Linked DNA regions of Homo sapiens. The protein of the gene in region 1 purifies or fractionates together with the protein of each later gene. This does not show direct contact. Each region holds a gene or a part of one and is shown in the gene's direction. Other genes may lie near its edges.

The links. Proteins that work in one complex are often made in the same cells at the same time.
Region 2: the proteins of VTCN1 (region 1) and ALG1 purify together in Homo sapiens (affinity purification with mass spectrometry, with the first as the bait; one large-scale study listed by BioGRID). This does not show direct contact.
Region 3: the proteins of VTCN1 (region 1) and NUP210 purify together in Homo sapiens (affinity purification with mass spectrometry, with the first as the bait; one large-scale study listed by BioGRID). This does not show direct contact.

The regions. Positions count from the first base shown.
Region 1 is NC_000001.11:117,148,428-117,151,927, reverse strand, and holds part of VTCN1 (V-set domain-containing T-cell activation inhibitor 1 isoform 1 precursor), read left to right. Parts: intron 1-3,500. UniProt on the Homo sapiens protein: Negatively regulates T-cell-mediated immune response by inhibiting T-cell activation, proliferation, cytokine production and development of cytotoxicity.
Region 2 is NC_000016.10:5,078,343-5,081,842, forward strand, and holds part of ALG1 (chitobiosyldiphosphodolichol beta-mannosyltransferase), read left to right. Parts: intron 1-414; coding exon 415-536; intron 537-721; coding exon 722-760; exon of another isoform or gene 761-764; intron 765-1,405; coding exon 1,406-1,465; intron 1,466-2,603; coding exon 2,604-2,714; intron 2,715-3,500. UniProt on the Homo sapiens protein: Mannosyltransferase that operates in the biosynthetic pathway of dolichol-linked oligosaccharides, the glycan precursors employed in protein asparagine (N)-glycosylation.
Region 3 is NC_000003.12:13,319,323-13,322,822, reverse strand, and holds part of NUP210 (nuclear pore membrane glycoprotein 210 precursor), read left to right. Parts: intron 1-483; coding exon 484-630; intron 631-987; coding exon 988-1,238; intron 1,239-2,843; coding exon 2,844-3,060; intron 3,061-3,497; coding exon 3,498-3,500. UniProt on the Homo sapiens protein: Nucleoporin essential for nuclear pore assembly and fusion, nuclear pore spacing, as well as structural integrity.

The DNA.
Region 1 (3,500 bases):
CAATGAGATATCACCTAATGCCCATTAGGGTGGCTACTCTAAAAACAAAATAAGGCAAAAACAGAAAATAACATGTTGGTGAGGATGCGGAAAAATTGGAACCCTCATGCACTGTTGGTGGGACTGTAAAATGGTGCAACTTCTATAGAAAATAGTATAAAGTGTCATCAAAACAATTAAAAAAAAGAACTACTGAGATATGGAGCCAGCCGGACTTCGTGGGTCGAGTGGGGACTTGGAGAACTTTTCTGTCTAGCTAGAGGATTGCAAATGCACCAATCAGCACTCTGTCTAGCTAAAGGATTGTAAATGCACCAATCAGCACTCTGTAAAAATGAACCAATCAGCACTCTGTAAAATGGACCAATCAGCGCTCTGTAAAATGGACCAATAGGCAGGAAGTGGGCGGGGCCAAATAAGGGAATAAAAGCTGGCCACTGGAGCCAGCAGCAGCAACCCGGTAGGGCTGCTGTCTGTGATGTGCAGGGTTTGGTGTTTTGCTGTTCACAATAAATCTTGCTGCTGCTCACTCTTTGGGTCCACACTAGCTTTAAGAGCTGTGACTCTCACTGCGAAGGTCTGCAGCTTCATTCCTGAAGTCAGTGAGACCACAAACCCACTGGGAGGAACAAACAACTCCAGATGCACCATATCTGAACATCTGAAGGAACAAACTCCGGACACACCATCTTTAAGAATTGTAACACTCTCCAAAAAAAAAAAAAAAGAACTGTAACACTCAGGTTGGGCATGGTGGCTCACACTTACACTATCATATGATCTAACAGTCCTGCTTCTGGGTATGCCTTCAAAAGAATTCAGAGTCTGAATGAGATATTTGAACACCCATGGTCACAGTAGCACTATTCACCAAAGTCAAGAGATAGAATCAACCCAAAATGTCCATTAGTAGATGAGTAGATAAACAAAATATGGTATACACATACAATAGAATACCATTCAGGCTCAAAAAGGAAGGAAATCCTATCATATGCTATGACATGAATGAACTTTCAGGACATTATCTATGTGAAATAAGCCAGTCACAAAAAGACAAATACTATATGATTTAAACAAAGCATCTAAAGCAGTCAAATGCACAGAAACAGAAAGTAGAATGGTGGTTAGCAGAGGGCAGGGTGGAAGAGTTGAAGGAGAAAGGTTTTTGTTTAATGAGTATAGAGTTTCAGATTTGCAAAATGAAAAAGTTCTAATGATTTGTTTTATAACAACGTGGATATACTTAACACTACTGAACTGTACACTTAAAAATGCTTAAGATGGTAAATTTTGTTGTTTTTACTGCAATTTTTAAAAAGTATCTAACTAAAAAATTACATATGAGAGCGAGAGCTCTTGCACCATCTTGAGGAACAAATTGGCAACTATCCTGGTTAGGATTATTAGTTGCCTGTAACAGAAAACCAATATAAATAAATCTAGTCTGAAAGGGAAGTGTAGGAAGTGTACTAGAATGTTGTGGAACCAAAGACAGGAAGTTCAGTTGACTTCAGGATCAACTGGAACCAGGAACTTAAATCCCATTGAGATTCTTTTTCTCTCATTTCTACTTAATTCTCTCTTTACTCTCTTGTTTTAGTCCATATGGCAAGACGTGATTGCCAAGCATTCCTATATTTAAAAATCTCTTACTCAAGAGAGTGGTGAGACTGAACCTCAATTCATCAGTCTCATTCTACATTCCCAAGAAGGACTTTGACTCCACTTGGGTCAGCTGCCCATACCTAGGCCAATGAGGCAGTATCTGATGAAAGGCCTTCCCAGAAGAGAAGGAGGGACTGAAGTATTGGTCATTTAAAACAATGGGTGCTGACAACAGTATCTCAGTCCAGTTCCCAGTAAAAAGCTCCAAGCTGTGTAAATAATGTCTTCTAGTAGCAAGGGCCACAACTGAACAAGACATAGACATTGAGCACACCTTTTATTCAATTAACAGATCTGTCTTCTTTACATGTTTGTTGGATACATCAAAACAAGTGTTCGAAGTGTCAGGCTAGGATGAAATACAACTTTTGGTAGCTCAAAATTAAGAAAATAGCAGAATTTCTTATTGTTGTAGACAAAGTAGGTGCTCCATGCATGTTTTTAAACAAGTAGGGCCATGGGATTTACATATTGTGTTCTCTGCCTATACTGCTAATTTAGGTCATTCATTTAACAAATATCTATTGTGTGCCAAGTATGTTCAGAGTACTTTTTTAAGCCCCCTGAGATACTGAAATGAATAGCATAAGTATCAAAAGAGAAGTTAATCACAGTGTAGATTTAGTACCTATGGGAAAGAGTTGTTAATTATGACTGAAGTGGATCCATAGATAAGGCAGAGTTCCGGCTGGGTTTTGAAGAAGAAAAAAAATGGTTTGGATAAAATGGGAAGACCTGAAGTCAGGAGCTTACAGTAATGGTCTGGGGGAGAAATTATGAGAGTATTAACTGGAGCAGGGGCAATGGGAAAGAAAAGGGGGAAGAATCAAAAGTTGCATAAACAAAATAATGTACAGTCCTTGGTGATGCAAATGTGAAAGTCAAGAGAAATCACAAGTCAAAGTGGGTTTGATATTTCTACCCAGGATACTTAGGAGGTTGGTGATGCTACCAGAAAAAAAAAAAAAACCCACCCCAAAACATAGGAGCAATATGTGTGGGGAGTAGATAAGGGTTTTAGAGATGTCGAGTTTGAAATGCCCATAGTGTACCCAGGTAGAGATGCCCAGTGCTTAGCACAATAGCCAGCATGTGATAGGTTTTGGGGAGAACACTACACCCTTACTCCATATATTTCCTTTTATGAGAAGGGATCCCCACCAGTGTCATCTTTTTAGCCTCTCTCTTCCTCCCTCTTTCACTCTTCCTGAGAGAACAAGGAATTAATTTATCTGATTGATGAGTATATTAGGAGCAGCTGGACATAAGTAGCTCAGCTCCTCCTTTTTCTTTTTGTTTTTGCTAACTCTCAGGAAGCCCGTGTACATTCTGCTGTGCTCCTGCAGGCCGTCAGTTGTTCAGGGGTAGAATCTGCTCCTGCAGGAGACTTGCACCAGTCTGGTTCTGTCTGACAGTGGGGAGTCTCGGCTGTAGCCCACTTGCCTAACTACAAAGCCTCATTCTCTATTAACATATTTTCAGCACTAAAGGTGATATTTTGATCTTCCAGTTGCCTTATTTTTTTGTCCTTCTCTTTAATTGGTTCAGAGCTAAGCTGGGGAAGAGGCTGTTATTTATTGGACTTCTTTGAACCCCAATAGTAGGTACTCAGAAATATTTACTGAATAATTATGTTTTTAAATGACATATCTAGCAGCAACTGGAAATCTAGATGTGGAACTCAAGACAGAGTTCAAACTAAGGAGGTAGACTTGGAAATGACTAGCATGAAAGTGATATTTATTAGGCTTGAGTGATGTTGGCTTTATTGTCGTTTTTACAGCCAGTACTTATGGAGTGCTTATTATAGGCCAGACACTGTTCTAAGTGCTTTG
Region 2 (3,500 bases), on another chromosome or scaffold:
TTCCCAGGCCTGTGGCAGGATCTGTGGACCTGTGTGTCCCCTGGGGTGTCTCATGGGGCTAAGGAGGGGACCTTTGTGCAGGTCTACGCACCCTGAGGTGTGCCCTGGGTAAGCTGGGGTGGTGTGGGAGGGCGTCCCTGCACCCTCATCTTGAGTCCAGGGGATGATAAGACAGTAAGTCCCGTGGAGAAAAGGAATGAGTCAGTCTTGTTTGCTGTTGTAACCTTAGCACCCAGCAACAATATTAGAGAAAGCAAGCCCAGGCCTCAGATGGCAGGGGTGGCCTGGTGCTGCTGATGTGGCTGGGCACCCCAACCTCTGGGAGCCTGCAGGCCTCGCCACGGCAGGAGATGCCTCTCCTGGGTCCCGGGCCTGCTCTATGGCCTCTCACAGGCTTTTTTTCTGCTCCTTCAGCTCAGAACCTGAGGACCCAGTCACGGAGCGGTCGGCCTTCACGGAGCGGGATGCTGGGAGCGGGCTGGTGACGCGTCTCCGTGAGCGGCCAGCCCTGCTGGTCAGCAGCACGAGCTGGACAGGTCTGCAGGACCCCTGGGGCACTTGGGGTTGGTGTGACGGGCACCTGGCCAACCTGTGTTCTCCTCACCCCTGCCAGTCCTGCATGCTCCCACCCTGCCACGGTCTCAATGAGAACGGGAGGGCCTGTGAGCTGGAAGAGGGGTGTCTAGAAACAGGCCCCTGACATTCAATTCTCTTCTCATAGAGGACGAAGACTTCTCCATCCTGCTGGCAGCTTTAGAAAGTAGGTGTGTGGCTGCGGTGAGGAGCTCTGGGCTTGTCGGGGGCCACTGAGCTGTAAGCTGCTTGCCTGGCCTGCAGCATGTTCCTGTCCCAGGCCACTGGGTGGGGCAGCCTGGGGACAGCGGGGGTGGTGGAAGTGGGCCGCCCTGAATCCCCAGTTGGGTCATTGAGTGACCAGGCCCTCAGGCTGAAATGCCCCCTCCAGGAGAGTATCTCACACAGGCTGGTGGCCTCCCCGCCAGAGCAGTGCTCTTTCTCCACCTGACCAGGTGACTCTGGCTATTGTTTATTTAAAAATTTTTTTCTGAATGGGCATGGTGGCTCAAACCTGTAATCCTAGAACTCTGGGAGGCCGAGGCAGGCAGATCATCTGAGGTCAGGAGTTCGAGACCAACCTGGCCAACAGGGCGAAACCTGTCTCTACTAAAAATACAAAAATTAGCTAGGTATGGTGGTGGGCGCCTGTCATCCCAGCTACTTGGGAGGCTGATGCACGAGAATTACTTGAACCCAGGAGGCAGAGGTTGCAGTGAGCTGAGATCGCGCCATTGCATTCCAGCCTGGGTGACAGAGTGAGAGTCTGTCAGAAAAAAAAAAAAATTCTATCAGAAATTCCATGTAGAATTGTTTCTTTTTCTAAACACAGAGTTTGAACAACTGACTCTTGATGGACACAACCTTCCTTCTCTCGTCTGTGTGATAACAGGTACTGCCTGGGACCCTGGGTGTCTGTTTGGTTGGGGGATGGCGGAGGGGGAGGGGCACGCAGCCTTTACCCTGTGCTTCCCATGATCTTGTCTCCTTAATCCTCACTGCAGCTCTGCCATAGGGTCTTATACTGCTTGACATGGGGGAAACTGAGGCTCAGAGGCAGGGCAGGGAGCCCAGATTTGAATCTGTAGATACCAAGCTTTCTACTTTTTCAGTAGTTTCCAAGCATCTTTTTTTTGTTGTTGTTACGTCATTGGTGTCTTTTTTTTTTTTTTTTGAGACAGAGTCTCTGTCGCCCAGGCTGGAGTGCAGTGGTGCGATCTCGGCTCACTGCAACCTCCGCCTCCCACATTCAAGCAATTCTCATGCCCCAGCCTCCCGAGTGGCTGGGACTACAGGTGCCCACCACAACTGCCTAATTTTTGTATTTTTAGTAGAGACAGGGTTTCACCATGTTGGCCAGGCTGGTCTTGAACTCCTGACCTCAGGTGATCCACCCGCCTTGGCCTCCCAATATGCTGGAATTACAGGCACAAATCACTGTGCCCGGCCATGTCATTGGTGCCTTAACCAAGCCTCTTAATTTTTCAAACGGAAGAGCCCCTGTCCCACAGTTACTGCTGCTGAGCCCTTTCAAGGTGACTCAGTGAGGAGGGAGAAAAGCGGAAGCGGTGTGGGAAGAGGCCGGGTCTGGGCCAGCTGCTGGTCCTGCTCTCCTCCCTCCTCTGGCCTCTAGGCTCCCAGGAGTGGTTTGGAACCCGCGCCATATGCTCTGGGGGCTGTGCCAGGGCAGGAGGAGTCCTCGTGTCCCCTGTGCACAACACAGACAAAAGGCTGGGTCCACCCAGTGGGCGGTCGGGTGCCAGGCCAGTGCTTACCCCGCCATGTTTGCAGCCCGAGGCCAGCTGGCTGCAGGTGAAAGGCTATGCGTCAGGGGTCAGGGTGCACACACCCCTGCAGGTCTCAGGGCTCCTGGGTTGCTTCTGGAAGGGCCCGGATGGGGCCTGACTGGAGCTGCTGAGGGGTGGAGCTTCTGGGAAAGGGATCCCTCCTAGGGGGGAGTGTCTTGGGCCTGGGGCCACGTGGCAGGGACAGAGATGGGTCCATGGCAGTGTCTGCTCTTCTCTGTGAAGGCAAAGGGCCTCTGAGGGAGTATTATAGCCGCCTCATCCACCAGAAGCACTTCCAGCACATCCAGGTCTGCACCCCCTGGCTGGAGGCCGAGGACTACCCCCTGCTTCTAGGTGAGAGGCCAGCAGGAGGCTCAGGGAGGAGGCGGGGGGAACAGGGTGGGCGGGATGTACTTTTTCTGAAAAGGTGGCTCTGGAGGCCACTGGGGGACGGGACCTGGGCTCTGGCTGAACTCCCAGGAGGAGGCTACTTCCTGGTGTGCCAGCCCCTCCCTGCCAGGTGGCCCCAGGGGCCGTTTACCAAGGGGTTTGAGGAGGCCACGTCCTTTCAGCCTGCCACGCCCTCCATTCAGTCCTCTTCCTTCCTGCAGGAGGGCTGGGCCTGGGGTTGGGGCCACTGTTGCCCAGGTGTGGGAGGGCAGTGGCTTTGGGAGGTACGGGGACGATGTGTCAAACAGCGTCGCCTCTCCCAGTGAGATGGTTCTCCTTTGCCTCCGTCTCTTTCCCCGTTGATTTCTCCAAGTGGGGAGTCGTGCCTTGGTCCTGATGCGTCTCTAGAGCTGCATCTTCCAGCTTCGAGTGAGCAGAGCAGTTGGAGGCTGAAGGCCTTTTCCTGGCAGGACTCTCCACCTAGTCTTTGTTTTAGACAGTCTCGCTCCGTTGCCTAGGCTGGAGTGCATGATCTCAGTTCATGCAACCTCTGCCTCCTGGGTTCAAGCGATTTTCCCACCTCAGCCTCCCGAGTAGATTACGGGATTACAGGAGCCCACCACAACACCTGGCTTATTTTTGTATTTTTAGTAGAGACAGGGTTTCACCATGTTGGCCAGGCTGGTCTTGAACTCCTGACCTCAAGTGATCCTCCTGCCTTGGCCTTCCTAAGTGCTTGGATTCCAGGTG
Region 3 (3,500 bases), on another chromosome or scaffold:
GCACCGCCCTTCTCGTCCTGATTAACGAGGCAGCTCTGTTCCATCATGGCAGCCTCTGCTCCTTCCTCAGCGCAAGTGGACAGCACTGTGCCGTTGCCTAAATGCTGCTCAGATGTTAGTGGAGAACTAGTGCCCTCTGAATGTGCAGAAGTAAATTGCCGTTTCCCCTGCTGACAGGGACAGAAGACAGGCATTAGTGGGCCTAGCCCGTCTGCCGTGCCCCTGGATGCAAGGTCTGGAACAAATGCTGAAATTCTGACTTGAAGCTCCCTGTGATGCCGATGGCATCCTCTTCCATATGATATGTCCTTGGCTTTACCAATCCTGGCTGCATCTCAAAGCTTTGAGCCGCCCTGGGGCCCTGCTGGAAGACATGCAGGGGCAGGTGGCATTTGCAGCCCAGCCAGCCTGTGCAGGCCTGGTGGAATTTGGTGTGGTGGCCATCGGGCCTGGCCCACACCCTCTCGTCTCTCCCCTCTCTAGGCGAGTGCACCCCCACCCAGAGGGAAGTCATCCAGGCCTTGCACCCAGAGACCCTCATCAGCTGCCAGTCCCAGTTCAAGCCGGCCGTCTTTGATTTCCCATCTCAAGATGTGTTCACCGTGGAGCCACAGTTTGACACTGCTCTCGGTAATTGCGAGGATTTGAAAGTGAAAGGGACTTGGAGACAGTCTCTGTCTTCTGGGCATCTTGCGGCTTCCACGTGCCCAGCTCACCATGGCCGTCTGTCCAGAGGGCAGAGATTGTCAGGAGCCCAGCCTGGGGATTGACGCCAGGGGGACTTGGGAGGACTGCTGGTCACAGAGGGTATCCTAGCTTGGCCAAGGCCTTTATAGGGGATTCCCAGGAGGACTCCTGGAGGAGGTGACTTCTCACCTGGGCTTTGGAGGATGCATAGGAATCCCCTGGTTAGAGAAGCAGGGAGAAGAAATGACATCAGTGCACGGGCAGGAGAGGGGACAAGACAATACACCCTTGTCTTCGCAGGCCAGTACTTCTGCTCAATCACAATGCACAGGCTGACGGACAAGCAGCGGAAGCACCTGAGCATGAAGAAGACAGCTCTGGTGGTCAGTGCCTCCCTCTCCAGCAGCCACTTCTCCACAGAGCAGGTGGGGGCCGAGGTGCCCTTCAGCCCAGGTCTCTTCGCCGACCAGGCTGAAATCCTTTTGAGCAACCACTACACCAGTTCCGAGATCAGGGTCTTTGGTGCCCCGGAGGTTCTGGAGAACTTGGAGGTGAGTGGCATCTGCATGCCTCAGGCCAGGCCGGAGTCAGGGGCATCAGGAAGGCCCTGGAGGAAGAGGGAATGTGGTGTGGATGTCCTGGGCCAGCTCTCTTTAAAATTTATTTTTACAATTAGAATTTTTAAATTGAAGTACTCTTTTCTTTTTCCATAGCACTGTTGCTGTCTCTCAGGCTGCGTGATTGTATTAATTGTTCTGACCGCTGCTGGTCTTCCCCAGCTACAAGTTAAGCTTGTGGGGGCAGCAGTGAGAACCCCAGAAAAGGTGCCAGTGAGCGTGTGGTGCGTGGCATCGCAGAATTCAGTGCAGGAGCATCTGCCACAGAGCAGGGAGGAAAGCCCTAATCCCTGCTGGGACAAGTCCCCTCTCTCCAGGCCTCACTTCCCCCATGACTAAGTCACGGGGTGGGATTGGTGGGTGAATGATCCCTCAGGCCCAGAGCCTGGCAGGCTGGGAAGAGTTCGGGGGTGAGAGAACCAAGGAGTTCCTCGGCATTTCCGCCTGCTCCTCCTGCCTTGCTGCAGCCAGCGTGATCGCATGTTCTGCAGAGGCAGGGAATGCTCAGCATCGCTGATGAGGGAGGAGGGCCAGCCCGCTGGCGGCGTGAGCAGAGCTCGGGCTGCTACCTTGGAGAGCTGGTGCTTGGTGATACTTCATGTTGGTTTAGCCTTTTTTTTTTTTTTTGAGATGGAGTCTTGCTCTGTCGCCCAGGCTGGAGTGCAGTGGCGCAATCTGGGCTCACTGCAAGTTCTACCTCCCAGGTTCATGCCATTCTCCTACCTCAGCCTCCCAAGTAGCTGGGACTATAGGTGCCTGCCACCACACCTGGCTAATTTTTTTTTAGTAGAGACGGGGTTTCACCATGTTAGCCAGGATGGTCTCGATCTCCTGACCTTGTGATCTGCCCACTTTGGCCTCCCAAAGTTTTTTTTTTTTTTTTTTTGAGACGGAGTCTCGCTCTGTCGCCCAGGTTGGAGTGCAGTGGCACTATCTTGGCTCACTGCAATCTCCACCTCCCGGGTTCATGCCATTCTCCCACCCTTGCCTCCTGAGTAGCTGGGACTACAGGCGCCTGCCACCACATCCGGCTAATTTTTTGTTTTTTTAATAGAGACAGGGTCTCACCGTGTTAGCCAGGCTGGTCTCGATCTCCTGACCTCATGATCTGCCCGCCTCAGCCTCCCAAAGTGTTGAGATTACAGGCGTGAGCAACCGCGCCCAGCCTGGTTTAGCCTTTTTGTAAGCAGCAGTTGATTAGAATTAAATGAGCTTGAATTTGATTCTGACATTCATATTGATTTGTCCTTCCCTCAAAAAACACCCTGAGTATGGACAGGGCTTCCCGACTCTGCAGAGTACACGCCGTCCATGAGCAGTGCCCAGGTGTCATTACCTGCCCATGAGATGTGACCTGGGCAGGGGTCCCCACCTGTACCCTTGGGCCCCAGGAGGGAAGCCCAGCATGTCAGGCTGAAGCGGGGGTGCTTCCAGAGATGGCCATGCAGAGCAGCCCTCCCGCCTCGGGGTCCTGAGGCCCCGCTCAGTGGTCCCCCCACTCTGCAGAATGTGCACCCCCAGCTCTGATGTCTCTTCCAGGTGAAATCCGGGTCCCCGGCCGTGCTGGCATTCGCAAAGGAGAAGTCTTTTGGGTGGCCCAGCTTCATCACATACACGGTCGGCGTCTTGGACCCCGCGGCTGGCAGCCAAGGGCCTCTGTCCACTACCCTGACCTTCTCCAGCCCCGTGACCAACCAAGCCATTGCCATCCCAGTGACAGTGGCTTTTGTGGTGGATCGCCGTGGGCCCGGTCCTTGTGAGTCACGGAACGACATCATCTGGGACAGACCAGGATGGGGAGGGACAGGCAGGAGTGGTCCTGGCTATCAGTAGAAACCTGAGGTGTAAGAAATGGAGGAGTCAGAAATGCAGAATGTCCCTCAAAGTGATCGCTGCTCATTGGGGCCATGATGCAGGCTTTAGTTGCCCAGCTTTCCCATCTGTTCTCAACATGGCAGCCACAGGGGCTGTGCCCCTCTGCTCAGCAGCCTGCGCCAGGAGAAGAAGTGCCAGGGTACCAAGAACAGCTGTGGGCCCGGGCCTCCAGCAGGTGGCCTGGCCCTCTGAGACCACCATCCTTACATCTAAGAGGGACCTGTGGACTGCCCTGTAGACGTACAGTAGGGCAGGAACGTGATGGGATGCCACAGTGGGCCTGGTGGTTTTGGTAACTCATCTTCCCATTGATGGCAGATG